Homo sapiens: one gene and its partners. The protein of the gene in region 3 interacts with the protein of the main gene of each other region in a pairwise test. Each region holds a gene or a part of one and is shown on either strand. Other genes may lie near its edges.

What was found.
Region 1: the proteins of NTRK3 (region 3) and HTR2A interact in a two-hybrid assay, tested with the Homo sapiens proteins (one study listed by IntAct).
Region 2: the proteins of NTRK3 (region 3) and WDR13 interact in a two-hybrid assay, tested with the Homo sapiens proteins (one study listed by BioGRID).

The regions. Positions count from the first base shown.
Region 1 is NC_000013.11:46,829,449-46,839,707, forward strand, and holds the end of HTR2A (5-hydroxytryptamine receptor 2A), read right to left. Parts: intron 6,192-10,259; coding exon 5,389-6,191; 3' UTR 2,098-5,388; downstream 1-2,097. UniProt on the Homo sapiens protein: G-protein coupled receptor for 5-hydroxytryptamine (serotonin).
Region 2 is NC_000023.11:48,598,914-48,608,105, reverse strand, and holds part of WDR13 (WD repeat-containing protein 13), read right to left. Parts: coding exon 9,149-9,192; intron 8,754-9,148; coding exon 8,644-8,753; intron 8,520-8,643; coding exon 8,389-8,519; intron 7,788-8,388; coding exon 7,480-7,787; intron 6,323-7,479; coding exon 6,142-6,322; intron 6,042-6,141; coding exon 5,900-6,041; intron 3,835-5,899; coding exon 3,716-3,834; intron 3,259-3,715; coding exon 3,074-3,258; 3' UTR 1-3,073.
Region 3 is NC_000015.10:88,252,382-88,263,028, forward strand, and holds the start of NTRK3 (NT-3 growth factor receptor isoform a precursor), read right to left. Parts: upstream 4,359-10,647; 5' UTR 4,263-4,358; intron 4,106-4,262; 5' UTR 3,903-4,105; exon of another isoform or gene 3,788-3,902; 5' UTR 3,773-3,787; coding exon 3,525-3,772; intron 1,098-3,524; exon of another isoform or gene 349-1,097; intron 234-348; exon of another isoform or gene 142-233; intron 1-141. UniProt on the Homo sapiens protein: Receptor tyrosine kinase involved in nervous system and probably heart development.

The DNA of each region.
Region 1 (10,259 bases), on a different chromosome or scaffold from region 3:
CTTCTGCTGTGACTGGGCCACATGAAAAAAGGTTCCAATTGGGTATGAAGACTTCCCATAAAACGCTGGCTCAGATGGACATACTGGTGTTAATATCAAAAAAGAAGGTCAGAGTTGGGCCGGGCATGGTGGCTCACGCCTGTAATCCCAGCACTTTGGGAGGCCGAGGCGAGGGGATCACAAGGTCAGGAGTTCAAGACCAGCCTGACCAACATGGTGAAACCCCACCTCTACTAAAAATACAAAAAATTAGCCAGGCGTGGTGGTGCGCACCTGTAATCCCTGCTACTAAGGAGGCTGAGGCAGGAGAATTGCTTGAACCCTGGGAGGCGGAGGTCACAGTGAGCTGAGATCACACCATTGCACTCCAGCCTGGGTGATACAGCAGGACTCCACCTCAAAAGAAAAAAAAAAAAAAAGAAAGAGTTAAGACTGGTGTGTAAACCATTAAGGAAAAAATTTTTAAAAATTTTGTTTTAGCAAGCCGCATGCCAAAATAATCAGAAATTCACAAAGAAGTCTTGTCTCATTGCATATTTGCTGGGACAAATGCATCATTAATGTTCTTAGTTTAGAATGAAATCTTCAAAGTCTTGAATGTTTCTTTCAAAATCATCATTATTATTGTGGATTAAATTCAATATTAAGTTATAAAACTTTATATAAGTTATGAAGTGTTTGAAGATACTTGTTTTTTTGTTGTTGTTGTTGGTCATTTCAGGGATACCAAGAAAACATTTCTTGTCCCCAAATTTTCTTCTCACTTGTCTCCTTGATGCCTAACATTTTTCCTTTGATTTCTGCCTTTTGGGTTTTCATCATGGTGGGCTGCTGAAGAGATGTCAATGATACACAATGGCATATCAGCTTCAGTTACTTAGTAGTAGTCTTCCAGAGAGTTGACACCCAAGGGAATGGCATATGGGATGGAAAGTTTTTATGTAAGTCATAAGAGAGAGCACCAAAGAAGGGAGATCTGCATTAAGGTGGGGACAAAGCAGAAGTAAATTTTTTGAAAAAGAGAAACACCAAGAGAGTAGCAGAAGCTGCTGAATTATAATATTGCCTATCCCACAGTTTTGGCTAGAATTTGCTCTGATGGCTAATAATTTACAGAGGCTTTGGAGTTGTTCCTTTTTACTAACACACTGATTACATTTACATGGTGTTTTACAAGTTATCAAGCACAGCCATAGGCATGATCTTATCTAAATTACTCTGTCAGTTAGCCAGGATGGGTACCAGCAGCTCCATTTTACAGACAGTGAAATCAAGGCCCAGAGTTGTTAAGAGACTGGTTCCAACTCACATAAGCAGTGAATGGAGAAGCCAACATGGGAACTCTCCTATTGTGGTTTTGACAGGTGATCTTTCCCCTGCACTGCATGAGGTTGGGAAAATATTTTATGCTTTGGAGTCAGATGACCCAGGCTTAAACTTGCCAATTTTCTTGCCAGCAGTGTGACTTTAAATATGTTACTAACTACTCTGAATCTCTGTTTCTTCATCTGTAAAAAAGAAAAATAATTCTACCTTGTCAGATTGTTGTGAAAATTCCATTTGGTGAAGCAAGGAAAGCAACCAGCTTAATGCTTGGCACACAGTAGGCACTCAATATACTTTCCCTGCAGTTAAAGATGAAATGATGAATGAGGGTAACTGTTAAATGACACCATGCCTCCTTGGTTTACTTTAATTCCTGAAATGATCTCCTGTGAAAGAGAGAGAGTGTGTGTGCATATGTTAATGCATCTGTGCGTGTGCACACCTGTGTGCATGTCCTGGTGTACACCACACGCACCTGTGCACATCTCTTAGGGCACTGAAGTTGTTCTCTATGTTCTTAGGCTTCGTGGAACCAGACATAGTGATCAAACATGGAGCATATTTCTACTGCAGATAACTAGAAACTGGATCATGGCGATAAAGCTAATCCAACTGGATGGATCCTAGCTCTGTGACATGGCTGACTTCCAGAAGCACAGGCTTTTTTGCTCTCGAATATCAGGATGATACCTGGAGTTCTGAGTCTGATGACCTGGAAGATTTGGGGTAATTCCGTTTAGTAGACACAGCTATGGACTCACACAAAATTCATTCATTTTTGAGTCTACTTTATTTACAGTTATTTATCCTTTCTTGAAAACTTTTAGCATCGCCTTGATTAAAATAAGTTCATAAAATAATCTTCACTGTATTTGTTACATATGGCACAGAATAATTTAGCACTTTATAAATATGTCTCATTGATGCACAAATGGGAGGAGCACCCTTTGCTGAAAGCAGTACAGTGACTTAGTTCAATTTGGCTACGGTAGCACTTTAAAAAATTACCATGAGATGGCGCTGTGGCCAAGTAAATGCAGTATGCTTTAAACAGTTTTCCCTAATTATGGCAGTTAATTGCTTTTTTTTGAATATAGAGGAATCTATCATTCAACTTAAAGTAGAGCAAGGTTTGTTACTCCGTTTTAATAGTATTCATTAAAAGTGAATCCTTTAATCACAGATCCATAAATCATTTGACAACTGTGTTTCACTTAGGTGTGAGTCTGTTTAAAAAGCCATAGTAGTCAGAAAATTGCCAGACTAAACAAAGGGCCCAAAGGTACCATTTTATTTAGGATCAAGAAACTATATATGTGGACCATTGTTTTCGCCATCCTCATAGACTTGTCTTAAAGTTCTTCCACAAAATTAGATTAATTTCCAGTTTATTTAAAGAGCTGATATTTTTGTTACACTTTAATCTGCTTTGCAGCAATGGAAGGTCATAGAAATATTAGAACATGAATTCACATTTAAATAAACATGATACAAACATGCACACATGTGTATATACTGAGTGTTTTCATTGACTTGCTTTTCGTCCATATAAATATATAAATATTGAATAAAGTGCATGAGAACATGTCTGTACATATATACAGCTACACATTTGCCTATACAGTATACACTTGAATAGATACTTATGGAAGAAAAAAACACATACACATTTGTAATATATAGGTAGTCAAAAGACATCTATCAGGCAACATTAATGTACATTCTGATCAAGATTGAGTATATGGGGGTAGAATCTGTAATCTTTTCCCTAATATATAATGAAATGTGCAGAGTTACAAGTGAAGGCAAAATACATTAGAGTGGAGACATTTTAACATTTATATTTTCATCAGTTAGTATGGTATATCATAAGGAGTAGTTCAGTTCAAATGCAGCCTTGGTACTAGCAGCATATTATACATTCTATCTTTGAAACAGTGAACCATCTTTCAACATATCTATGAGGACATAATGAGAATTTTATGCATTTCCAAATTACACAATGACACTTCCCACATTCTTTAGTTTTCAAATCTGTATTTTTTTCCCAAAGGTTTAGGGCAAACACTATTTCTCATTCAATAGAAATGCTTCAGCATTGTAATCATATATATAACATTGATTCTAATAACAACATGCAATTTAACCTTGAGTGTTATAATATCAAGGTGGATTAACTGTTGTTAATCTCTTTTTCTCTTTAGTAACCATTTCAATGAAATATTATAATATCTGCTTTTCTATTAGGGAGCCCAGTGTCAATGAGTAATACTGAAATGAGTGAGTTTTTGGAGAAATAGAAGAAAAATTTTGCTCAAAACTATGGTAGTTATAAACTGGCTTGAGATTGAGGTGCGTATTTCTAAATTAATTGCAATGTTAAGCCTCAAGTGATATTTTCCCCCTCCTTTATTTGTTTGGTGTTTATTGGTAACCAATCAGGAAAACTTATTTTTAAAACTACTCTCACAGTTGAAACAAACTTGTTTCTGAACCAGGTAAGAAGGAAATAAGTTGAAATGATTCTAAAAATAAGTCTGTATATATTTTTTGACTAAGACCATTTCAGTTTAGTCATTTTCTTTTTTTCTTTCTTTTTTTTTGTGATAGGGTCTCACTCTGTTGCCCAGGAGGAAATGGCAGTGGTGTGAACTTGGCTCACTGCAGCCTTGAGCTTCTGGGCTCAAGTGATCCTTGCGTCTCAGCCTCCCCTGTAGCTGGGACCACAGTTGTGTGCCACAAGGATCAGATAATTTTTTGATTTTTTTTGTAGAGACAGGGAGGTCTCACTTTGTTACCCAGGTTGGTCTCAAACTCTTGGCCTCAAGTGATCCTCCCATCTCAGCCTCCCAAAGTGCTAGGATTACATGCACGAGCCTCCGTGCCTGGCCGAGCCATTTCGTTTGAAGGCAAGGATTTTGTTTTAATTATTTTTATATTTCTCATATCTAGAAATTTGCTTCACACATAAATGTACACTCAATAGATGATTGTGGAACCAAGCAGAATGGTTTTAATAAATAGTATAAACCGATGGATCTGAAAGCATCAGTTTACCTGATGAGTGTCATAGGAAAGTCACCTGCTTTTTACAGAGATGTCCTAGGACTCTACCACTGTCAGTAGCCGGAAACCTGAGTTCATCCTCAATCCTGACACAGTTACATCAATATACATTTACTGCTCAAAAGAGTGCATGCATGATGCAGTCATTTCACAGCAAGTTACCAAATACCTCGATAGTGCTGTTTTAGAGAAGCAATTGCTAGAAAGGCATTTGGTAATGTTAAATCATCCTTTTGCTAGTTTACCTAGAGGAACAAATATTAAACAAGACCACACTGGAAATTCAGAGTAAAGCACAAGAAGTAGAAGAGAAAGCAGCAATAGTTATTGAATAACATTTGAAGTCTTTTTCACTTCTGAGAATTAACTTGAAATGCAGCAAATGCCAGCAACCTTGTGAATATTTCAAAATGGTATCTATGAAAAAGCAGGAATGAAAAATGTTGTCAAGTATTTCATTTAATTATCTTAGCAATACAGATTTTATAACACTGACCTTAGTGGCTTTTTTTTTCTCCTTTCAAAATATATACCATAGTAAGTTTTAAAGATAATTTTTAAGAGGCCATTATATTCAATAAAATTTTCACTATTTATAGCTATTTTTATTTACAGCAATAGGTAACCAACTCAATCCCATGTCATCAATGAACAGCATAGCAGCAAGGTTTCCACTTGAAAATAGAAGTTAATTTAGATTTACTTAGGGCTTCATAATTATACAATAAAAGTGAATCATTTTAAAGACATATCATTTACAATGTTATAAATAAGTATCAGAAAGCTCACAGCTGAAATGCTGTCAGAACATTTTCCAAGCACACATTTTGTAGCATTGAACCCCGCTTTTCATTGACAGAATAAAATGAGGCATACAGATATGATCGTTGGTTCCACTAGACTTGTCTAATTTTTTCCAATCTCATATTTTTTTTTTTCCAGATAGGTGAAAACTTGCTCAGTGTGCCTTCCACAGTTGCCACGGCAACTAGCCTATCACACACAGCTCACCTTTTCATTCACTCCGTCGCTATTGTCTTTAGAAGCCTCTTCAGAATGCTGCTTTCCTAGAGCAACCATTGAGCAGTCATTATCTGTTGTCTTGGCATCTTGCTTTGAATTCTTTTTTTGTCCCATTTGAAGTTGGCTAGACTTGTAGGCCAAAGCCGGTATTGTGTTCACTAAAATTAACTGCAATGGTTTTTTGTTTTCCTTGTACTGACACTGAATATACCGTGAAAAGGCTGACCTATAGGTCTTGTTGAACAGTGTGTAGACTAGTGGGTTGACTGCTGAAGAGAGATAACCGATCCAAACAAACACATTGAGCAGGGCCCCAATGACATCCTCATTGCAGGACTCTTTGCAGATGACGGCCATGATGTTTGTGATGAAGAAAGGGCACCACATCACCACAAACAGGAAGAAGACGATGCCCAGCACCTTGCATGCCTTTTGCTCATTGCTGATGGACTGCATAGTCCTCCTGCCTGTGTAGGACCCTGGCTCCCTATGGATCGACCGCTGGAAGAGCTTTTCTGAAGACAAAGAACTCTGAGGGAGGAAGCTGAAAGAAGCTAATTTGGCCCGTGTGCCAAGATCACTTACACACAAAGTAGCTTCTTTCTGGAGTGACTTGATAGTTAGAAAGTAGGTGATCACCATGATGGTTAAGGGAATGAAAAATGACACAAAAGAGCCGATCAGGACAAAGTTATCATCGGCGAGTAAGCAACTCCCCTCCTTAAAGACCTTCGAATCGTCCTGTAGCCCAAAGACTGGTATTGGCATGGATATACCTGGAGTTGAACAGAAAATGAAACATGATTATTAAGGAATTAAGTATATGAAGGCAAGAGCATCATCACATAATATTGGCTATTGAAAAGATTTTATATCATCGTTTAAAAGCTTAACATACTTTGAGAATTTAAAATTCCTTTGGACTTACATATGTGTTTTGTAAGTATATATTATGTAGTTACTTGTATGTTATATTGCCCTATATAGCTAACCCTTATAAAGAAGTATAATAAATCTAGCTTTATTTTTTATGCCACATTTTTCTGATTATAATATTATACTTATTAATTGAAGAAACACACAGAGAGGCAAATAAACTAAAAATTGTCCAATAACGTCACCATCTAGAGATAGCCACAATTAACAACTGATGCTGTTCATTTTATTTATTTATATATTTATTTATTTTTGTCTATGAAAATCTAGAATATAGATTTGTTTCTTTTTTTGATGCTGTTCATTTTAGATACATTCACACACTTACCATGTGCACACATTTTAAAACAGAATTGAGGTTCTTTTTCACAAATAGTTCTGTATCTTTTTTAAAAAATCTAATAATATGTCACAAGCATGGCTTATATATAAAAATAACTATAAAATTTTAAATATAGTTTATTTTCTCTCTAGAAAATTTGGGAGGTACAAAAATGTAACAATGAATAAAGAAAAATAATATGTATTCTCACCAGTCAGGGGCAACCATAATTTACATTTGCATCATTTCTTCTTCCACTTACATGTACATATAAAAGCAAATGTGTATATGCAGTACTTTACATGCAGTACTTTGTACCTTATATGTTTTAGATCTTCCTATTCCATTTAACATTATAAATCATGATAATTGCACATAAAATATTTTTGAGAAATACAATTTTCTAATATTAATTTAAAATAACCAATTTTAATTCTTTTTAAAAAAGCTTTTATTATGGGACATTTTTAACATACACACAACTAACAAACCAAAAACCAAACCCAGTACAGTGAACTCGTCACCCAGCTTCAAAGATTATCAGCTCAAGCCCAATCTTGTTTCATCCATATGTCCTCTGGCTGCCATCCCTCCCATGTTATTATGAAGCAAATCCTAGACATCATGTCATTCAATCTGAAAATATTTATTACGTAGATCTAAAAGCCATGCACTCTTAGACAAACCTAATATTTTCACAATACCATTCTCACTCCTAAATAGAAGTTTAATATTTCCTTAATATTAAATGTAGAGTTAGTGTTCAAATTTCCAATTGTCCCATAAAGGTTGTTCTATGTTTTTAGTAGTAGAGCATTCATAAGGATGGATTGCAAAAAACAAGACAGCCATAGACTTTTTATTGACAAATATAAAAAGTAGGTATAGGATGAGATAATACAGGGGAACATGGGCCTATATGGTTCATTGCTCCATCACCCAGATTTGGGGGATCTGTAAGGCTCCCTCAGGTACAGGGATTAGGCAGAGGAGGAAGCAGAAGTGAATAAAGGCAACCCCTGGCCTCTAATCATGCTATGTGCCCCACTTGATGATAGGACCTTTTTAAAGGAAGATTCAACTGGCCATGTTGTGCAGTTTCACCACCCAGCCCCCACCATGGACAACCTCTCTGCTCCTGGGGAAATAGGTGTATCTTTCTCTACTGGCCTGGGATGGTTGGTCCAAGGCAATCATGAGATGGCTTATTCTCTCTGCCATAAAGGTAGAATCAGGATGATAAAAAAGAGAGGAAACATGAATCAAGTACTCTGTATAACTTAGTTTAAGATTGTTTCTTTCATGAAATGGTAGATATTGCAGGGACAGCCTGGGAGAAAAAGTCAGAAAAATAGTTCCCTTCTAACTCCTGCCCATATTATCAGCACACTCAGAATTGTAGAACAAAGAGTGTTGTGGTTACTGCTTCTGACCGTCTTTAGAGTCTAATACATGGTCTCACACCAGCCAAGAACACCGGTTTATTCCAGAATTGGGGGCCACTGCCTCACTCTTGCCATCCATCTGGAAAAAGGTTTTTGGAGAATCTCTAATCTAACTTCTGCATACTCAGAACAGAGTTCCGCTTCATCCAAGCACAGGCATGACTGTCCTAACCTCATGTCACCTCACATTGGCCATCGTGGCCAGGAAAGAACGCTGAGTTGATGTAATATTCAACACAAATCTTTCTTAGTGACATTTGCCATTATCTTCAAAGACTTAATTAACAATATTTGTCACTTGCCTATGCAAGCCCATCCAGGATTCTTGGAAGGTGGAGATAAATGACATCAGAGCTGTTCATAAGGACACTTATTGTGGCTAATGACTCTTCATTTCCTCCATCCCTCTCTGTTCCTGGCCCATTGTTTGCAACATTCAAGAAGAGATTGATGAGCTGTGCCTCCAAGGAGAACATCCTCTGAGACCCTGGATATTGACCAGTTTTGCTTATCCTTCGGAAAACTCTTGATTGTAAAAGTAAGGGCATGATTTCTAAGAAGAGTGTTTTTCTCCCAGTGTTTGAATCTAGATCTGTGAAAGATATTTCCTGTACTCATGTACAAGGTCTTCTTAGACAGCACAGTTGCTCATTGATTAGAAAGGATGCTTTGTTCAACCATTTGAGACATCCCTGGATTTGAGTCTTGGCTGTGGCTCTGGGCTCCTGAATTGGTTACTTCATTCCTATAGTCCCCACTTCTTCATCTATCGTGGGAGGCTGGCACCAACATACCTTCATGCATTTGGTGAGGATAAAATGGATCAAATTTGCAGAGCACCTAGCACAGCACCCAGTCCATAGTGATGTTCTACCAGTGGTCAATAAACATGAGAGTAGCTTTCTCTGCAGAACTATTTATATTAAATATATCAACATTATTTTATTCTAATCCATTTTGCTTAGTTTGTATACACTAGATTTTATATAGCAGATCTTTTTAAACCAAAAGAGACTAAAAAGACTTTTGGCTATTGGCCGTAGAGTTAACACTGATGTAATTTTAGCTTCTGCCAGGGTGACGCCGGGTCTTAATCAATTTTAATTTTGTGCAGCTAGAACTGTTGATTACTTTCCTAATGTGATGAATTACAGCATTACTATTAGTCATGATACACAGAAACAAGATATCAACCGTCCAAAAAAGGTGTGTGATTTTGTTATTAAACTCTTGAGTGTTCTTTTTCTAATTAATACAAAGGAAGTAACTACCTTGAGAGCCTTTTGCCCTATTTGCTTATAACCTAGTAATGTACATAAGTGGCAATTCTCAATTAACCAGAATGTGGGCTTACCTAAAATGCCAAATTCTTTAATTATTTGGAATAGTGTCTTTGGTTGGACACACACATACACACACACACACACACACACACACACACACCCTTACAGAATAGCCCAGTTTCTGAGAGGGGTGATGGAGTCATCTGCACTGAAATAGAGAATCCCTCTCTTAAATGCCCGGGATAAAAAGCCACTCTACAAGAGGATGTGGTAAGAGGTTACACGCAGAGCTGTTCTGTCTGGAAGGGGGATATTAATTTGGAAGTGGAGAATCAAGCTGATCAGTTATTTAAATGGCCTATTCATCTTTACATATAACAAAAACATCCTGAATACTATCGTATACCATTCTTTTTCCATGCCTCACTCATAGTATCTGGTCAGCAAGGGTTGTAGAAAGAATAACCAGAAAGTTAAAGTAATACTCTATAAAGAGGAGAGGAAATTTTATGTCAAAAAACTTAGAACACATAGATAGGCTTTGTGGGTACAATCAGCAGCTCAAAAGCATGTGCCTCTACCAAGAGAGATGAAGACATGGGCTGATATCCAATATCGTGGTCACAGCCATCTCTAGGGCATTAATTATCTGGCTGCTTTGTTTGACAATAGCTGCTTTTGGAGACCTGACATCTCCTCTCACTTGAAATTTCTGCATATAAAGCATTTTCCTTTATGAACAAAACAGACAGTAACCTGAATTACATGACTCTGCATTTTGTTTAATATATTTTTTCTGAAGAGTGGAAAACAGCAGTCAAAATTCACTATCAGTATTAGATCCTCTATGTAGCATTT
Region 2 (9,192 bases), on a different chromosome or scaffold from region 3:
GGCTTACTCTACCTAAGCTGTTTGTATAAAAAAGTGGGCCAGGAGCGGTGGCTCATGCCTGTAATCCCAGCACTTTGGGAGGTCGAGGCAGGCGGATCACAAGGTCAAGAGATGGAGACCAGCCTGGCCAATATGGTGAAACCCCGTCTCTACTAAAAATACAAAAATTAGCTGGGCGTGGTGGTGGCAGGCGCCTGTAGTCCCAGCTATTCAGGAAGCTGAGGCAGGAGAATTGCTTGAACCCAGGAGGCGGAGGTTACAGTAAGCCGAGATCACGCCACTGCACTCCAGCCTGGCGACAAAGCGAGACTCCGTCTCAATTAAAAAAAAAAAAAAAAAGGTGGTTTATGCTGAGCCCCTGCTTTCCTTTTGGGAGCCTGGGATTTGGGTAGGTGCCAGGCAGGGGGTGCCTATGTGACCATGCCCCAATAAAAACTTGATACCAGCCAGGTGCTCACGCCTGTAATCCCAGCAGTTTGGGAGGCTGAGGTGGGAGGATCACTTGAGGTCAGGAGTTCAAGATCAGCCTGGCCAACATGGTGAAACCCCATCCCTACTAAAAATACAAAAATTAGCCGAGCTTGCTGGTGCGCGCCTGTAGTTCCAGCTATTCGGGAAGCTGAGGCCCGAGGATCGCTTGAACCCAGGAGGTGGAGGCTGCAGTGAGCCAAGATCATGCCACTGCATTCCAGCCTGGGCGTCAGAGCAAGACCCCCCCCCCCCCGCCAAAAAAAAACCAAAACAACAACAACAACAAAAAAAACCTCTGGGTGCTGAGTCTCTAATTGAGCTTCCTTGGTCAGCAACATTTCGCATGTATTGTCACAACCCATTACTGTGAACCGAGCACATCTTGTGTGACTCCAATGAGAGAGAAGCCCTGGAAACTTGTGCCTGGGTCTCTCTGGGAGTTGGTCCTGCACACCATTTCTTTTTGCTGATTTTGCTCCATATCTTTTTGTTGTAATAAGTCAATCGTAGCCATGAATACAACCACATACTGAGTCTTGGGAGTCCTCCTAGCAAATCACTGGGCTTGGGGCTGGTATTGAGGACCATGACACACACACACATACATGACCTTTACCATGGGAACAATCCAGCTCACTGATGTCCCTATCTCACCACCATGTACCCTGAGGTCTATTAGATGGAAGTGCCAGTTAGAAATGCTTGGGGTGCAAGTAACCACACTGTCAAATAACTGGACTGAACAAACGGGAGATTATTTCCCTCCAACAAGACTGTTGGTGCGAGTTCAGCAGCTCAGCAATGCTGGGCCAAGCTGGAGTCTCTACCACGCTGTGGACTGACCCTAAGGTCCCAAGATGTCAGTCGCAGTTCCAGTCAACGCATATGTGGCAACAAATGGAGCTGAGAAGGAAGGGAGGGGCCGGAGCAAGAGCCTCTTTGCTGCTTCAGGTAACTTTGACATTTTCTGGTGACGCAGGCCACTGATAAGTGATTTTGGTTATTTACCCCCATCAATACTCAAAGCTTTTTCTCCTCTCTTGGGGCTCCCCTCAAATACTTAACATCACTTTTTGGTCTCTGAGCTGTTCCAGGGCTGGAATTTGTACCCTGGATGGGGCTGGGAGGAGACAGGGGTGGTCTGAGGGATGGAGATTCCGCCACACAGCAGGAGGCCCCAGGTCAGCCTTAACTTCCCGTTGCTCCTGCACCAGCTTGGGGCTCCAGGACTCAACACCTCTGCTCCCTGCTTTTAATAAACAACACAATGCACAGAAGGGTTGGGAATATCGCCCCCTGAGGAGGCAGCAGAGTCCTGCAGCCTAACATAGTGAACCCCCTGGGGGTCCGACCCAACATTCCCCCGCCAACTCCTCCACTGTCACTACCCTGGTGCAAGTCCCCATCACTGCGCTCAGAGGGGTCTCCTGCTGGGTCCCCTGCTTCTACCCCCACCCCCAATCTGTCCCCTTCAGCAGCCAGAGGGAGCCTCTATGACCAAGTCAGATCATGTTCCTCCTCTGCTTGACACCTTCTGGTCACCCCCACTCAGAAAAAAAGCCAAAGTCCTAACTGTGGCCCATGAAGCATCTGGCCTGTCTGACCTCATGTACTGTCACACTCTGGTCCAGCAAGACTCTGGCATACACAATGATCCTTCTGGAGCGCTCCAGCCTCAGTGCCTTTAGGCTGGCTTTCTCTCTGCCTGGAATGTTCTCCCCCTACACTATGACTCCCACTCACTTCATTCAGGTCTTTAAATGTCACCCTGAGCCAGGCGTGGTGGTTCATGCCTGTAATCCCAGCACTTTGGGAGGCTGAGGCGAGTGGATCGCTTGAGCCCAGGAGTTCAAGACCAGCCTGAGCAACATGGCGAGACCCCGTCTCTACTAAAAATACAAAAATTACCCGAGTGTGGTGGCACACACCTGTAGTCCCAGCTACTTGGGAGGCTTAAGTGAGGATCACTTGAGCCCTGGAGGTTGAGGCTGCAGTGAGCTATGGTCATGCCACTGCATTCCAACCTGGGTGACAGAGTGAGACCCTGTCTCAAAAACAAAAAAGTCACCCTGTCAGGATCATCTTCCCTGATGCTGTCACCATAAAGAGCCCACTCCCCCAACTTCTGCAGCTCTGTCTCCCATCCTTGCTTTATTTTCTTCATACCACTCATCATTAGCTGGCCTGTTCCATGTTTTTATCTACTGTCTCCGCTATGATGCAAGCCCAATGAAGGCAGGCATTTCCATCAGTTTAGGTCAGAGCAGTATCCCCAGTGCCTAGAACAGTTCCTGGCACACGGTCAGGGCTCACTAATGTCTATCGAATGCATAAGTGTGTAAAACAGTTAAGGCAGGGCCTGTAACCCAGCAGACATTCAATCAATGCTTGTGGAATGAATGAATCCGTCGATGCATGAATGCACAAATGAGTCAATGAACCCCGTTCCACCGTGTTCCTGGAGCTGCCCGCTGCCCTCTGCCCTGTCCGTCCCCGGCAGAGCTGGGAGCCGGCCCTCAGCATGACCACCGAAACTTTATTTACAACACGAGGCTGGAGTAAGAGGGGTGGGATGGAGGACAGCAGCAGGGCCGACAGGACCCTACTTCTGCTCCCGCCTCCAGACGATGACCATGCCGCTGGCGTCACTGGAGGCCAGTAGGCTCTCGTCGCAGTTGAAGCTGACATCAAGCACAGGTGCACTGTGGCCCTGCAGCTTGTTGACAGCAGCCTTGGCCGCCCGCTCCACATCAAAGAAGTGCACGCACATGTCCTCACTGCCCGTCACTGTCGGGGTGAGAGGGAGAGGCCATCGGGAGGCGCCTGGGGTGCCCCTGGTGGGAAGTCCCTGAGGTGTCTGAGGTGTTGAAGGGTGTATGTCCGAGGTGTGAGGTCCTAGCATGGCTTGGGGAGGTTTGAGGGGGCCCCATCCCTAGATGGGAGGTCACCTGGCTGTTTTGGTACTGTGTGCAGAATGCGAGGTCTCTGGGCTGTTTGGGGAGTTAGTGCGTTCAAAGTGTGAGTTTTCATCACTTCTCGGCCTTTTGGCCGAGATCAAGTGCAAACTGTGAGTTCTCTGAGCTGTTTGGAGCTGTGAGTTCCACAGTGAGGCTGTTGGGGCAGGAGGGGTCATGAGGTCCAGGAAGTCAGGGCATCGGTGTCGTGATGTCTGAGCCAGGTTGGCACCAGCCCTGGTTCCTGCCCCTCCCCAGCCACCCAGATCCCCTGTCCCTACAGGACTCACCCACGCAGGCCCCCTGGCGGAAGGACATGAGGGGACAGAAGATGCTGCGCACAGGATGTGAGCTCTGCTCGATGGGGAAGCTTCTCTTCAGCTGCAGGGTCCCCTCGTTGTCTACCACCCTGAGAGGATGAGAGAGTGGGTCAAAACACAGCCCCAGCCCTAGCAGGGAGACAAGTTGTGGGCCTGTGTCCCCACCCCTGTGCCTAAGTTCTTTACAGGGTTCATGAAACCCATATTTTTTTTTTTGTTTTTGAGACAGGATCTCACTCTGTCACCCAGGCTGGAGTGTAGTGGTGCGATCACGGCTCACTGCAGCCTCAACCTCCTAGGCTCAAGTGATCCTCCCGCCTCAGTCTCCCGAGTAGCCGGGACTACCTATAGGCACACACCACACCCAGCTTATGAAACCCAATTCTGAGATGACTACATAAACTATAAGTAGGGGCTGATGTGTGAGTTACTGATGGTTCAGAAACTGTCTCTGTTGATATAAATGGGAGCCTCTGCAGTTTCATTCACTAGTTTTTCTTTGTAAGGGTCTCTAAAAGATCCTGGTATTAAGATAAGCACAAAGAGAGGAAATGAACACACCATGGTATGCCCACACTGTGGAAAACTGCACAGCCCTTAGAGAGAATAAAACACTGTCCCCACAGGTAACCTGGGGGGGTTTCCACAAGGCATTGCCTGGTGAGAAACTCGAAATGTAGGAAAGGCCATTTCTTTTTTCTTTCTTTTTTTAAGAGATGGAGTCTGGCTCTGTCACCCAGGCTGGAGTGCAATGGCACGATCTCGCCTCGCTGCAACCTCCGCCTCCCAAGTTCAAGCAATTCTCCAGCCTCAGCCTCCCAAGTAGCTGGGATTATAGGCGCCTGCCACCATGCCCAGCTAATTTTTGTATTTTTAGTAGAGACGGGGATTCACCATGTTGGCCAGGCTGGTCTTGAACTCCTGACCTCAGGTGATCCACCCGCCTTGGCCTCCCAAAGTGCTGAGATTACAGGAGTGCGCCACTGTGCCTGGCCGGAAAAGGCCATTTCTTTAAAACGTCTTTCTTTCAAAACTGTGGTGGGAGCTAGGCAAGGTGGCTCACGTCTGTAATCCCAGCACTTTGGGAGGCCAAGGTACAAGGATCACTTGAGGCCAAGAGTTTAAGACCAGACTGAGTAACACAGCAAAACCTCATCTCTACAAAAAATAGATTAAAAAGGTTGGCCGAGCATGGTGGCGTGTGCCTGTAATCTCAGCTACTTAGGCTGAGGTGGGAGAATCGCATGAGCCCAGGAGTTGGAGGTTGCAGTGAGCCATGATCATGCCACTGCACTCCAATCTGGGTAACAGCAAAACCCTGTCTCACAAACAAACAAAAACATACATGGATATATGTACACGCCTAGGATTTGTGGAAAGAGAAGGATATGTGGAAAGATGTGGATCATTAATGGGCTTTACTGTGGCAGGAGGAGGCCAGAGGTGGCAGGAGGAAGAAAGGAGAGGCTGTGGGAAATGGGCAAACTTAAGGGTACGCTTAAATTAAAAAATTGTTAAGTATATATACAGAAATTGTTTAAAAAGGAGGAGAGAAATAAAGGGGTAGAATAAAAAGCATCCTGTTAGGCAGTGGTTTTCAGGACTGGCCAGACATTGCTTAGGGAATTTCTCAATCTACCAATGCCCAGGCCCATCCCAAAGCTTCTGAAATTACTGGCCTGTAGAGGGGCCCAGACAGGAGTTTTTGAAGCTCTTCAGGTCATTCCAATGTGTGGCCCAGGCTGAGAACTGCATTTGGGTAACATGACAGATGTGAGTGGGGACAGTAACCCCCACACTACTCCCCGCAAAAAAAAAAAAAAAAAAAGGAAGGAAGGAAGAAAGGAAAACAGGTCTCTGCTTTAAGTAGCCCTAATCTATTTTATGCTTCAGTTTGCTCACCTGCAAAATGGAGATAATAACAGCACCTACCTCACAGGTCGGTGCAAGGATTGAATGTGGTGATACGTGGAAACTGCTTCGAACAGGGCCTGGCCACAGTGATGGCTGTAAACGCGCTCACTACTGCTATTACTGTTACTGCTACTACTGCTCCCTCAATTAAATTAACCTGATGGAGGAGATGAGCTACTGTCCCAGTGTGCTGGAGGAGGCAGGTCCTCCGTCTCCAGGAGGCCCTGATGGGGGACCCACCTGTAGAGCAGCAACTTGTTGAGGCAAGCATTGATGAGCAGTGAGGGATCCCGGGCCTCGCGGCTGACCCAGGACCGGGCTGAGATGCTGGTCACAGGGCTCCCCTCATGCACCACCAAACGCTTGGCTTTGGTCAGCTTCCCTGCAGCAGCAGAGGGAGGGAAGGCAAAGGTGAGGGTGAGGGCTGTGCCCTGGGAGGGCTGGAGGGCGAGCACCCAGATGCAGGCCTGCTGTCTGCCTACCTGTGGCCATATCAAAGAGGAAAGAGAAGACACTGCCACGGTCATCACCCGCCCAGAGCAGCCGGCCAGGGGCATCAAAGGACAGAGCAAGGACACGGCCTGTCAGCTTGCTGGAGCCCCCCTTCACTTTCTTGCCTGTGGAGATGTTCATGACATGCACGTTGTGCTTGGCGTTCCCCACCTGTGGGGAGAATGCACAGACCATCATCCTGCTTCCAGCCAGGCCCTCCTTGAGTCTGACCACAGTGGGGCTGCTGTTGATGCGACTGGCTGGTCCCTATTAGAGTCTATTCACAATAGGGCTGTGGCAGGTAGACAAGGTGACCAGGCATGAATCCACCTCCCTAGCCAGCCCCTTTTGCAATCTGCCCAGAGTAGGCCACCTGCCTACGGGACTAAAGGGCCTTCAGAGCCATCATGCTGCCCCTTGGCCAGTCCTCCTACAGTGTGAGAACCATAGGGCCTGCCTAGGCCTGTGATCCCAGCTTTCCCCTGCTCCCTGGCTGCTCCTTTCTGGAACTTGTGGGGCTGCTGCTAATGCGGGGAGGATCCCGGCCCACAAGCTCACTCTTGGTCTGTTCCTCTGCAGTTCACCCCACTACACCCCGGGCCACACCAGACTTTCTAATGTCCTTCCCCTGCTCTCTGACCAATCTACCCTGGAGTCTGACACGGTGGGGCCACTGACAGACCAGACGAGGCTCAGCCTCATCATCCTGCTCCTCAGAGGTAGCCCCTGCAGTTGGAAAACTGTAGGACTGTAGCTGATGGGACCAAAGGGGCTCCAGAGCCAGAACCCTGACCCTGGCCCGTGCTCCCTGGAGTGTACCACAGCAAGGCCAACCCAGATCAAGAACGGCATTCCCCTTTTTATGGGGGGTGGGGGCGGAGTCTCGCTCTGTCGCCCAGTGGTGCCATCTCGGCTCACTGCAAGCTCCACCTCCCAGGTTCACACCATTCTCCTGCCTCAGCCTCCCAAGTAGCTGAGACTATAGGCGCCCGCCACCATGCCCGGCTAATTTTTTGTATTTTTAGTAGAGATGGGGTTTCACCGTGTTAGCCAGGATGGTCTCAATCTCCTGACCTCGTGATCCGCCCGCCTCCGCCTCCCAAAGTGCTGGGATTACAGGCGTGAGCCACTGCGCCTGGCCCACTCCCGTCTTCTGATCTGCTTCCCTTTTAAGTCTGACCACACTAGGACTGCTCTGACGAGATTGGGTGGGGGGTGGGGGGGTCCTAGGCCCCCCCTGGCTGTCCCTCCTTATACTCTGATTCCCTCAGATAGCCTTCCTGACCCAGCCCACCAGCCCTTGGTGAGTGGGTGTCCTGGAGCCTGACCACAGTGAGGTTGTTGTTGACAGGCTGGAAGGTGCAGCAGAGCAGTTCAGCGCTATCGGGGTCAGGGATCTCTCGGATGCAGCGACCATCCTCAGAGGCCCAGATGCGCATGGTGGCATCCAGTGAGGTGGACACGAGGATGTCATTGGAGAGGGACCAGGCGAAGTCGGAGACACCACGGGTGTGGCCCCGTAGCACGCGAAGCACTGTGGGTGGGGCAGGCACCAGCTGGCACAGGGAGATGCTGCCGTCGAGTGAGCAGCAGGCCAGGCGGTGTCGGTCATCATTGGCGAAGCGCACCCTTGGGACTGCAATGCCAAGAAGCCATTAGTGGGAATCTGCACACTCACTGGGCACTTTTCTCTCTAAAAGGCTCTGACGTGTGTGCCTGGGGCTGGGGCCCCACTGCATGAGGAACAGTGGCCTCAGCAAAGGGCTTTCCTTGGCTGACAAAGGGAACTGTAACCCCTGAAGACCCTCTGCCAAAGCTCCCTAAGTCTTAGCAGCTCCTTTGCAGATTGCAAAAGTCTTCTGCAACATGAAAAAGTTCCTGTCTTAGCGAACACTTTATAATCAAGGTCTTGGCAATTTGCAAAACCCTTGACACTGTAGCCCACTCTGCCCTCTGCAAGGGGATTTATCATCAGCAAAGGCTTTGAACTCTTCCAAGTGACTCAGGAACCCAGGCAGCCTGCTGCAAAGGGCTCTCTCTTAGGCTTCTGAGGCCCTTTCCAGTAGACGAAGCACTGACCACTTTGCAGAGGGATTTTCAGTCTACAAAAGGCTTTATGGATGGTCATTCCTCCTTTGGAGTGTGCCAGGGGCCTTGGATTCAGAAAAGGATGCCTTGGTTGGTTGTCACAGTTTGGGCAAACGCTTGGTGATGGAACCCGCTACCCACTGGCTCACCTGCCTCATCCACGTGCTGGTCAAAAACATGATACATGCCCGCAAAGGCATAGTTCTCGCTCAGTGACGTGTCCCCGGCCATGGCCCGACTTGCCTCTGCTGCTGACGTGGGCACCACGCTGCCAGGGGGCCTGGGCCCCAATAGGAAGTGAGGGGTGACAGGAGGTAGATGCGAGAGTGTTCAGTCTGCCATTGCCCCAGGGCCCCTCTCCTCCTCGCAACCCGCCCCCCGCCTTGGCTGCCTCTGGTGCATACCTGTCCTCATAGACGGCACGGTTCATCTGCGCCTGCAGCTGGTAGGAGCCTCTGCTGACAGAACGACGGTGCCCACGGGCCCCCAGGGCCCGAGGATCATCCTCAAAGTCCTGCAAATGGAGAGGGTCAGGGTGGGTGCATCTTGCAAAAAGCCCGAGAACCTTTGAGGTGTGGAGCCCTGAAAATCTACCTAGAGTCAGATCACTTCTCACTGTGTCCCCTGCCACCACCACCGCTGCCCACTTGTACTACTGCAGTGGCTTCCTCACGAGTTCTGCTGTTCCTGCCCTCCCCCTGCTCAGCAGATACTAAAGACAGGGCTTGCTATATGTTTACTGACCTGTTTACAAAGTTTGTGTGTTTACTGGTTTACTTGGCATATTATCTTTTTGTCCTCTGCTGATGCAGAACAGTGCCCAGCAAAGAGCAGGTGCTTGATGAAAGTCAGTGGAGTGAATGTGTGCAGGCAGGGTATGCCCGGGGGTGAATGTGGCCAGAAGCTCACCTCCATGCGGTCAAGAGTAGTGCGGCTACTGCGGACGATGCTGT
Region 3 (10,647 bases):
GGCCATGGAAATGAAGGGACCAGAGAGCTGCCAAATGCCAGGGACCCTGTGGCGGCTCAGAGTGAGACCCAGCTGGCGACTCAGAGTCCCAGCTAAGAGCCCGTGGTCTTTGCAAGCCGAGGTAGCCAGCCCCAAGCATACCTGGTCCAGCCATGCCATCCTCTCCCACTTCATCTTCTTTCTAACAGCTAAAGACCATACCACTCCAACCCAGCCCCAGGTAGGCCTGGCCTAGCAAAGCGGCCCAGACAGTCCACCATGGCCACCACCCTCCTGCCTTTGTGACGTCACAGCCTGGTTGGGTGTGGCTGCGCATGGACCCTTCCAGGCTCCATGAGGTTCCTGTGTATCAACAGCTGCAAAGGCAAAGGGATTGGCCTCCTGGGCAGAAAGGGGCCAAAAGGGAGGGCCCTTTGGAGGAGCGTGGCTCTGGTGAGGGGTGGAGGTGAGACCCACACTTATGCTCTGATGCCTTGCAACTGATTTCCTCCAGATACAAACAGGGCAGCTGAATGGGGAGATGGCCTCCCCCATCAGAGGCAGTTCCCAGCCAGCTTCCTTGGATGGCCACACAGGAATCACTCCACACACCATCCCTGAGAAGCAGAACCACAGGGAAACCTCTTGTCCCTCTGGAAACTCAGTTACAATCAGTTCAGCACTTGAAGGAAGGATCTCGAAACATTACAGCCCGAAGAACAAGAGGGTGAAACTGTGGAGGCCTCAGCATCTTCTACCCAGAGTGTGCCCAAGCTATACCCTGGGGCAGCCACCAGCATCAAGAGCTTCAGGCCAGTAGGGAGCTAGGGGACCTCTTGGTCCCATTTCCTTGATAACATCAGAAATCTGAAGAACAACTCTCCAGCAAGGCACGGGCTTCAACTGAAGCCCTCTTCCCAAGTCATACTAAAACAAGAACTGACCCCAGCTGCGGGTGCTTCTCTCTGCCCGCACATCCCTCTTCCAGCCTGCTCCATATGCAGCCCCACACAGTGGGGGTTCCTGTTGGGATTGTGTGTCTGGGGCAAGTGACCTTACCACCCCAAGCCTCCATTTCCTCAGAAGTCAAACAGGGATGGGGATGCTGACTTTCCGGGGTAAGCGTGACTCTCCGCCCTCTCTCCAGCCCCCTGGCTCTGGAGTGGAAATCTGGGCTCTTCTCGAGCTCAGTCAATACCAGCCATAGATATAACAGGGCACTGGGGAAAAGATGGGGCAAGGAGAGGTCATTTGACCCATGACCTCTGACCCTCCCCCACCTGCCACTGGCACAGCTCCTGTGGGAATCCATTTCCCTTGTTCTTTGGTGTTGGGTGGATTTAGAGAAAGGAGTCCTGATGGCCTCTCAGAATCCAAGTCCTGAAACAAGAATGGGGACACACACAGAGGGGCTCCAGATCCACTCCCTGCTCACTATCCTCCCAGACGCCCTCCTGAGGCCCTCCAGTACCAAAGAGGGCAAGAGGCCACCCCAGTCCCCTCCCATCACAGACCTTTCTGGCAGCCTAGAAAGGCTAACCCAACTCTGCCCTATGAAACTGCTTCCCTGAGCATCATTTTCAGAGGAGCAACACCTCTGTGTGGCTATAAAGAGCCTACGTGATTGTGACCATCCCTGCCTCCCACTGGCTTTCTACAGACAGACACATCCTTGGAGCAGCACACTGGATGCAGCTCACCCATTCCCAGAGACCCAGGCTGGGTACCAGGGGCCCCTTCTTCCAACCCTTGGCCCACCCCTGGCAATCTCTAGGTCAGGCTTCTGAGCACCAAGACTGGCTGCTCAGCTCCCACCTTCACCAGCACCCTACTACCCACATCCACCCCCTACACACATACACATACAGCCCCAGCAATGCACTTCCAAGTCTGAGTTTCCCTAACAGTCTCACTCTGAACCCTTCTCCCTGCATCCTTGGGAATGCTGGAAGCCTGTGGCCTGCAGTGGGGGAGAGGCACAGTTGGGTCTGTCCTGTTCCTCCTGCCCTCCCTGCTGACCCCCGCCCCTTGGCTGTTTATCTTGTCATCTCTGGCCGGGTTGAAGAGGGTAAGGGGGTGAACAGCAGAGCTGAGATATGGGTCAAGCTTGTCTCCTGGGCCAGGAGTCAGAGACATCTCCTGGGCTATCCATTTCCCTCAAACTGTCAGCTGCGAGAGCGCAAGCAGAAGCTCCATTAAGCCGAGAGGGCTGGTGGGCTTTCCAAAGAGCAGGACTGCAATTCCTCCAGGCTTTGCAGCCCCATGGCCCTGGGCTGAAGCAAGGGGAGGTGCTCCCAGAGCAGCACCAAAGGCAGGTCCGGCCCCCTTAAGTCCGTCGAAGGGGTAAAGAGCCACCCAAAATGCCTTCCTCCAGACCTTGGCCAGGACCTCAGCACAAACCCTTCTCAGCTGCCTACCCATTGCTGAGGGTCCCCAAGGGCTGGAAGCCTTGGGGGAAAAGAGGTGAGAATTATCCTCTGAGCAATTCCAGTATGGTCCACACCCTTCTCCAGGGTGGTAGGTTAGGAAGGGGTCACCTGGCCGAGGTCAACGAAAGAAAAGAGGAGCAGACTCTCCAGTCCCCAGCCCTCGATCTGTCCTCTCCTTTGCGTCTGCTGCCATCCCCACCAAAGAAAAATAGCAAGGAGAAAAGAGCAGGCCACCACTGGTCTCCCTCGGAGGGGGCAGAACCAAGCAAAAGCCAGCCAGAGTTGAATGTTCCAAATGAACCGATCCGCACGATCACACAAGAAACCCCTCTCCTCAAAACACACGCCCTCTCCTCTCCCTGCGCCATCCTGACTCGGAATAGTTCCGAGCAGTTATCAAAGCCCAAACTGGGAAGGGATCTGTAGGCGCCCAGATGCAGATGAGGGTGGCAAAGGGGTGTCTCGGAAATGCCCAAAATGGGGCTGGAGAGGGCGGGCTGCAGGAGGGGAAGGGAAGAGGTAGGCGTCCATGACGGCCTCCACACGTCCAAAGTCTCCCCGCGAGCAGCCAGCTCGCAACTTGTTTACTTGTCAGCATGTTTTGCTGTTTCCAAATGGAAATAGTTAAACACCTCGGCTGGATCGCGAGCAGTCCCTATCTGTCACCTTCCCTGCCGGCTAAGCGCTGCCGCCGCTGCCACCGCCGCTGCCGCCTCTGCCAAAGAATCGAACCTCGTCTACTTTATTCCACTTGAGCGTGGCCAAACTGTTGCTATTTAGTGGGGAGCAAAAAAAAACAATTTGCACCATCGAAACGAGCCAGCAACTGGTTGGGAGGCGGGCGGTAGCTGGGCCCCGCGTGCCCTCGGCGGCCGGGGTCCTCTCCGGGGAGAGGCACACACACGCATAGCCGGATCGCGCCTCGCCAGGGCCGGAGTCACCTGGAATGCGCAGCCGGAGAGCATCTCCCGAGCCAGAGCGAGCCTGACGCGCGCCCAGCGGGCGGCGGGCAGCGGCGAGCTGGGGCGGGCGGAGGGCCGGCTCCCGGCCGCGGGTGGGCAGGAGGGAGACGCAGAGCGCGGGGGAGGCAGGCTGGGGAGCGGCCGCCTGACTTACATGGAAGTGATATTCCTTGAGATGTCCGTGATGTTGATACTGGCGTTCCCATTGCTGTTCCCTGAATCCTGCCCTTCCAGGAGGGGGAAGAGGTTCCCATCGTCCGGCCGCCGGCAATTGATCTCAGTCTTGCTGCAGACACAATTTGCAGGGCAAGCCAGCACGGAGCCCACATAGTCCAGCCAGACGCTTCCCAGCAAGAAAATCCGCCAGAAACTACACTTGGCTGGGCAAAGAGAGACATCCATCTCCGATCGCTGCTTCTAAAAAAGAGGAGGAGGAGAGGAGAGGGGGGTGGGGTGGGGGGAGTGGGGAGAGCAGGGGGGGAAGGAAACAAAGACGGCGAGGGAGGGGGGAAGGGGGAGGGGGGGCCTCTGCCTTTGAAACGCCGAGCGATCAGATGCAAAATCCTTCAGCGTCTGAAACCATCGCGGACGCCGCCGCCGCCGCCGCCGCCGCCGGGTGGGAGCCGCGAGGAGCGCCTAGTGGCGCGGTCTGCCGGGCATGGTGGCCGGCTCGGCGATCGCTGACTCGCCGGGTCCGGGGGCTCTGGAAGCGAGGCGCGCTCTCCGACTCCGAGACTTTGCAGGGTTGCAACAGACGGTGGGGAGGCAAAAAAAAAAAAGGAAAAGGAAAAAATGGTGCTAAAGTCACCAAGTCCCACCTACTGGGCAGAATTAAAACGGACACACCACGCACCTGCAAAACACACACACTCACTCTCACACATACACACACCCGGAGCCCGAGGAAAGGAAGAGAAGGAAGATGCAGTAGGAGCTGCAGCAGCCGCCGCGAATGGCTCGCCGCGCGGCTGCAGAAATGTACAAGTGCTCCGAGCCTTACGAAACGCACGGGTTATCGGAGCGTCTTCCTCGGCTCCCTCCCTCCCTTCCTCCCTCCCTCCTCCCCTCCCTCGTCGCGGCCTCCTCCCCCCGCCCCCCGCCCGGGCTGGGAGCGGCAGGAGAGCGGAATCTCCCCCTCCCTCCCCTCCCCACACCCGTCTCTCTCCCCGCCTGTCCTCTCCCTCCTCCCCACCCACCCACCCACCCACTCGCCGGCTCGCGGCTGTAGCCGGCACCGCCACCCGCAGCCTCGCGGCAGCCCGCCCGCTCCACGCCTCGCAGCGCGGCGCCCGCTAGCCGCAGCCCGGGGGAAACCGAGACCGAAGGGAAAAAGTTGCATTTGAGATTGCGAGGGTCGGGGCTGGGGAGGGAGAGTTGGCGAGCTGGCTGCACGACACGGAAAGGCGCTCTCCTTTCCACTTTTTGGCCCTCGCGCTACCCGGTTTTGCTGCAATCCGGACCGCGGTAGGAAGTGAAATGAACGTGGCGGAGGTGATTGGGGAGTGCTCCCAAGCCTTGGGTGGGGGGCGCTCCCAAGCCTGGGTGGGTGGGGGGCGCAGGCTCACGGACGGCGACGGGGGGTGCCGGAGCGCACAGACACCCCAGAGAAGCACCCAGAGCCGGGGACCGGGACCGCAGACGCGCAGTCCTTGGTCTGAATGACACTCATTTCCGTAATCTAGAGTCTGGGGCTCTGGTCTTGGCTGGGAGGGGACTGCGGGACATGGCACGCTAGGTGCCCCCCGTGCCCGCTGCGCTTTCTTGGAGGTGGGTTTTGCATTCGGCCTTGAGCAGGCATGGATCGGGGAAGGAAGAAACAGGGGTCGAAAGGGCTGCGCTGGAGAGCCGAGGTGGCCCCGGGCGAGCTGTGCGTGCAAGAGAAATGGCCGGGGGAAATTGAGATGCAAGGGGCATATTTTGGCAAGCGCCACGCCAGCACCGTCAGAGGCCGGCTTCTCGGGCTCAGCTCTCGGGTGAGCTGAGCTGGCTGCCGGGTGAGGGGGCGGGCGGGCTGCTTTCTCCGGATTCGGGGGCGCAGAACCTCCTCCTTCCCTCCCACACAAGCACCCCTTCCTGGTAGGGACGCAAAGCAGGTGCAGCTTTCGACGAGAGCTCAGATCTCATCCGGGAAAGAAGTGTGTGTGGGGGGGGCCCCGCTTTTGCGCTGGTAGGGATTTTTTTCTTAATAAAACATAAAGATGCCAAGTGTGAGCTGTTTGCTGAAAAAAAAAAAAACGAGCATTCGCTGTGGGAAAGGAGAAGAAAGGGTTAGGGGAGTCCGAGCAGGCAGACACACTACAGCATTCACACGCAGAAGAAAGCAGGGTTCTCCTTCCCGAGCTTGGAGGAGGGCAGGCGAGGAAGCAAAATACATTGAATTCAATTCAACTGCATCCAGTATCTGAAAGGAGTCTCCCCCGCCCCCCTGTGGATTCCGATGCAGGTCATGCAACTTGCAGGCAAGATGGGGGAAGGGGTATGCCGGTGTCACCGCCTGCCCCAGGCGCAACCACAAACAGGCCGGTCGCCTTCGGGTGGCACTGTCGCTTGGAGTAAAAACTTGGACGAAAAAAATGGAAGAAAAGAACATGCCTATACAAGGCAGTTTTCCCGACTTCCCGTCACGTTCCACCTTCCCTTGGCCCCAGGGAGATTTTTACCCCCGTCGCCATTATGGCCTTGTCTCCAGACTGGCATTTTGCCCTCCCACCAGCAGGCGGGGACAGAGTGTGAAGACCTCCTTGGACTCTCAAACCACTTGCTACTGGCCCTAGGCCAATCCTGGCTGTCCTTAGGCCACTGGGAATTTCCCTGTCACTTCAAGTGCCATTCTGGGATTGGCTTTAGAATATCTGAGAGTCAGGAAACTGAGGTGTAGTCAGATCCTAACACTTGGCCTCTCTTGGGAGGTGGCAGGTGGCAGCAGAGAAACACAGCCTCTCTCAGACCACTCCTGGGCAGGGAACGCCAAGTGGATTCAGCCCAGCATCAGTGCTCCAGCCTGGAACTGAAATGGTTGTGTCCAAAAGATGCCCAGCCCACTTTTTTGAGAGAGAGAGAGAGAGAGAAAGAAAGAGAGAGAGAGAGGATTTTTAACATGTCAAGCAGAGAAGAAGAGACATCCATAAGTTAGAACAACAAAAACAACAACAACAAAAAACCTTTAAAAACCCCTCTGGATTTGGTAAAAATGCAGATTGTGGAGCAAGGGGCCCTGATGGGCAAGAAGTCTTTCATCCTGACAGTAAAATGGGATTAAGATGGGGTGCTACGTTTATGCTCACACTCTGGGCCTGAGCAGGAAGCGACAGCTGAAAAAGAGGGAAGCCCTTTCAAAAGCAGGTGACGCATGGACACATAGAGGGGACAATGCACATGAGGGTCTACCAGAGGGTAGAAGGTGGGAGGAGGGAGAGGATCAGGAAAAATAACTCATGGATACCAGGCTTAATACCTGGGTGATGAAATAATCTGTACGACAAACCCCATGACACATGTCTACCTGTATAACAAAGCTGCACATCCTACACACGTACCCCTGAACTTAAAGGTTTAAAAAAAAAAAGCAGGTGATAGACTAGAGTGGGGAAGAGCAGAATTTCATTTCTAACCACAGGGAAATGACAAGCTTTCTGGGACTCCGCTTTCCCATCTGTAAAATGACCACGTTAAGACCAGATCCTCAAAACCCAAAGTGTGGCCCTCTGTCCAGTAGCATCCATATCACCTGGAAGCTTGCAAGAAGTGCAGCATCTGAGGCCCCATCACAGACCTCCCAAACCAGAATGTCCATCAGAACAAGCTCCCAGGTGATTCATAAGCACATCGCAGCCCCATAGTCATCCCTCCCAGCTTGAAGATTCTCTGATTCTACATGGATCTGGGCCAAAGGGACTGTTGAGGGAGAAAAAAAAAAAAAAGGTGGGGAATGATGGGGATGGGTCCTCATAATGTTATTCAGTTACAGTGAAGTTAGGGTGAAATAAACTGGGTATCTCAGAGGCAGGGGCCTTGTCAGAAAAAGACATTTGAAGTTTCATTCTAAGCTTAAGAAGATGAGAATGACCTGCTCATGCACTGCTCACAGAAATCATAGTGCAGGGTCAATAATAGTGCACACTCAGAGTTTGCTAGTTCTTAACCTCTGCAGTAGGCCAAATTTAAATGTGGGAGCAGAAGAAAGTCTCCAGCGTAGACACCCTCCCCTCAGTAAGAGTCCAGAGCATTTACAGTGTCTCACCTCTTGATAAGAATGTCCTGGTTGAAAAGGAAAAATGCCTGTCGCTTCATGGAGTCCTGGAGATATCATGACCAAGCTCAGCATCCAGCCAACCAGGGGTCACCCCCCAACCTCCTCATCTCCTTTGCTACCAGCTGGAGTCTTAGAAAGGAGGAAACTCACCCGTGTGCCCCTTGCTGATCAATAAGAGGCAGGAATAGGCAAAGTTTTTTGTTTTGTTTTGTTTTTTGAACAGAAAGTAAAGCTTTAGAAACCCTTTACAGGCGAGCAGACACCTTCCAGTACCAAGGGTTTGGAGAAGACAGAAATGTTCCCAAGATTCGAATGCAATCTTTCACCAGACAGGTCAGAGTGGGGACCACTTGCTGGAGCACAGTGGCCCAACTCCCCTGACACCTAGAGAAATTGAACACGTGTCTTTCTTAAAAGGCATGTTCCAGGCGTGCAAGCACCTGAGATTAATATCAACTGTTTATGGGAGATTTCCAGCAGCCCACATTCCCCTCCACCTAGCAAGGGAGAAAGGGAGTGGAAACTCAGAGCAGAGCCCTGCCAGTCTATTGGTCACCTGTCTGCCTTTCTAACCCAGCCACATCCCTTTTTCCAAAGGACCCATACTCCTGAGTCAGTGGCCACATTACCGGGATGTAGGCCACACACCAGGCAGGTCCATGGATTCACCCACCATGCCCTGCTCCTATGGTGTCATTCTGAATCCAAGAGCTGTGCTTCACAACTTTCAAGTTTGAGCAGAAATAGGATCTACTTCTGCAAGTCTCAGCTGGTCAAGAAACTGTGATACTGGGAGGTGACTGGGGAGCACAGCGGGCTACAAAGGGAATACTAGGTCCTGAAGGACTTGCTGTTCTAAAAGAGCTATCTGGAGCTGGCAGATCTGGGCTTGGGCTAGAGGAGGAGTTCTGTTTCTTGGGTGGCCCAAGCATAAGTTACAAGGGAAAGAGACAGGTCTGGGCCTGGTTGGAGGCTGGGGATGTATAATGCTATCCAGAAGCTCTGGGTCCAAGGAAAGAATTTTGACCATACATGGAAGATGAAAGCCCACCCACAAAAGGGGACAGTCAAGCACCAAAGTGGTCCAGGAAAGCAGAAGAATTCAACCATGGAAGAGCCAGCTCAGGGCTCCCACTCAAGTCCCAATATCTTGGACAAACACCTGCCAGGAGGTTGGGACTACCTGCTGGTGGTGTCCTGCTTGAACACCTTCAGTGGCAGGAAGCTCATTACCAGCCACTCCAGAGCCTTCGACTCTGTTCTCAGACAGCTCCATTCCTTGGGTATCCTTGACTTTGACATAGCGAAGCCAGCACCCTAAAGCTGCCACCCTCGTGCTAGTGCTGCCACCTAGACCCTCAGGGAAAAGTCTCACCTCTTTTCTGCAAGCCACCCAGGAGGCTACTCACTGCCCCTCTCTTCTCTGAGCAAAGCCTCAGTTCCTTCCCTATACTCCAAAAGCACAGCTTTCTGATCTTTCCCCACTACAGCTATTGGAAATGCATTCGGTTTGTCAAAGTGATCGGTTTAAATAAAGCATGGCTCCAGATCACACCGGCTTGAGGTGCTCTGACCTTGGGGAGCCAGGCGGTAAGCAGCTGTAATGGGACTAAAATGGTGTCATGTAGGGTTTACTACCCGCTAGTATCGAACCCTAGCAATGTACTTAAGGCTCTCCGCCTCAGTTTCCCCTTCTGCAAAATAGGATCTAACTCACAAGGTTGTCATGAGATAACACAGTAAGGCACTTTGAATAGTGCCTGGTGCACATAAGCATGGTATGTCAACTTTATTATGCCACTTTTGAGGTTCCCAGAGGGCTTTACCACCCAGCAGGGAGGCCCCAGCAGCCTTTATCCACTAACAGCCAAACACAATGCCGCCATGAAGCTCTTCCCACACACATTGCAGCACCCCCTGGCAAGTTGGTGCAATGGGTCGGGTGCAGCCACCGCCCACAGATACTCTCTGGCTCTGGTCCTAGACCCCAAAGTGGTGTGCTGCCAGAGAGGGTTCAGTGAATCTCGGGTCCCTGGGGAAGAAAGTACAGAGCGCAGGCCCAGGTACATCTCCCCTGAGATGCAACTCCTCAGCCCCGGAGCCCCTCGCTGCTGGTTCTCATGCCTTTGAGTTGCTCCTTCTGGGCTTTGGTCCCTTCCATAGGAAGGTAGACCCTGCTGAGTCACCACCGGCTCTGAGCAGTTGAGTTGGGCTGGGAATTTAATGCCGCACGTCCTAGGTCCTGCAGAGGCAGTGACTCACAAGGCCTCCCTGGCCTCTGAGTGTCCTGGTGGGGGCCCTGCAGGAGCAGATGCTAGAGCCCTTCCTTAGACAGCAGGATCCAGGGCAGGCAGCTGACTTCCTGCCAGCAGGTGAGCACTGCAGGCAGGTTAGGGGAGCCAGGGAAGAGGGATTCCCACTCCATGAGCCAACTTCCCCCAAGGTATGAAATCAGGAGTCAAGAGTCAGGACTCACACTTTTAGGAAGCCAGAAACCTGCAGGTGGTTGGCAGAGGCTAGTGCAGCACCACTGACAGGGACTGAGGGGAATGGAGAGGCTGGAGAATTGCACCTCCACACCCACCCTCCATTATAGACATAGCCCTCACGTGCCTTCCTAGATGAGCTCTCTCGGAGTAACTTACATTGTGCCTTCCTCTGCACAATACCCAGCCATTTGCCTATTTACTGATGAGAGAGCAGCCAGGGATCATCTCAGAGGGCAGCCGGGGATAATGGCCTTCATTTGGCAGATGAAGCAACTAAGATTGACAGGGTGGGGCAGAGAAGTCTGGGCACCTTCCTGACTTGCAAGGAGATATTCCTGTTACCAGGTTTTAAAATGTAACTTCCTTGAGGGCACAGACCTTGCTTATTTTATCTACTGATTTGCCAGCCCCGTAAACGGCATTGAGAACACAGAGGGGCTCTCTAGGTGGTTGTTGAATGAATGGCTGCCCCCAGCACACCTTGCCCTTTTGTACCACTCCACACACATGGAAGTAAGGGTTCAGTGTCTGCCTCC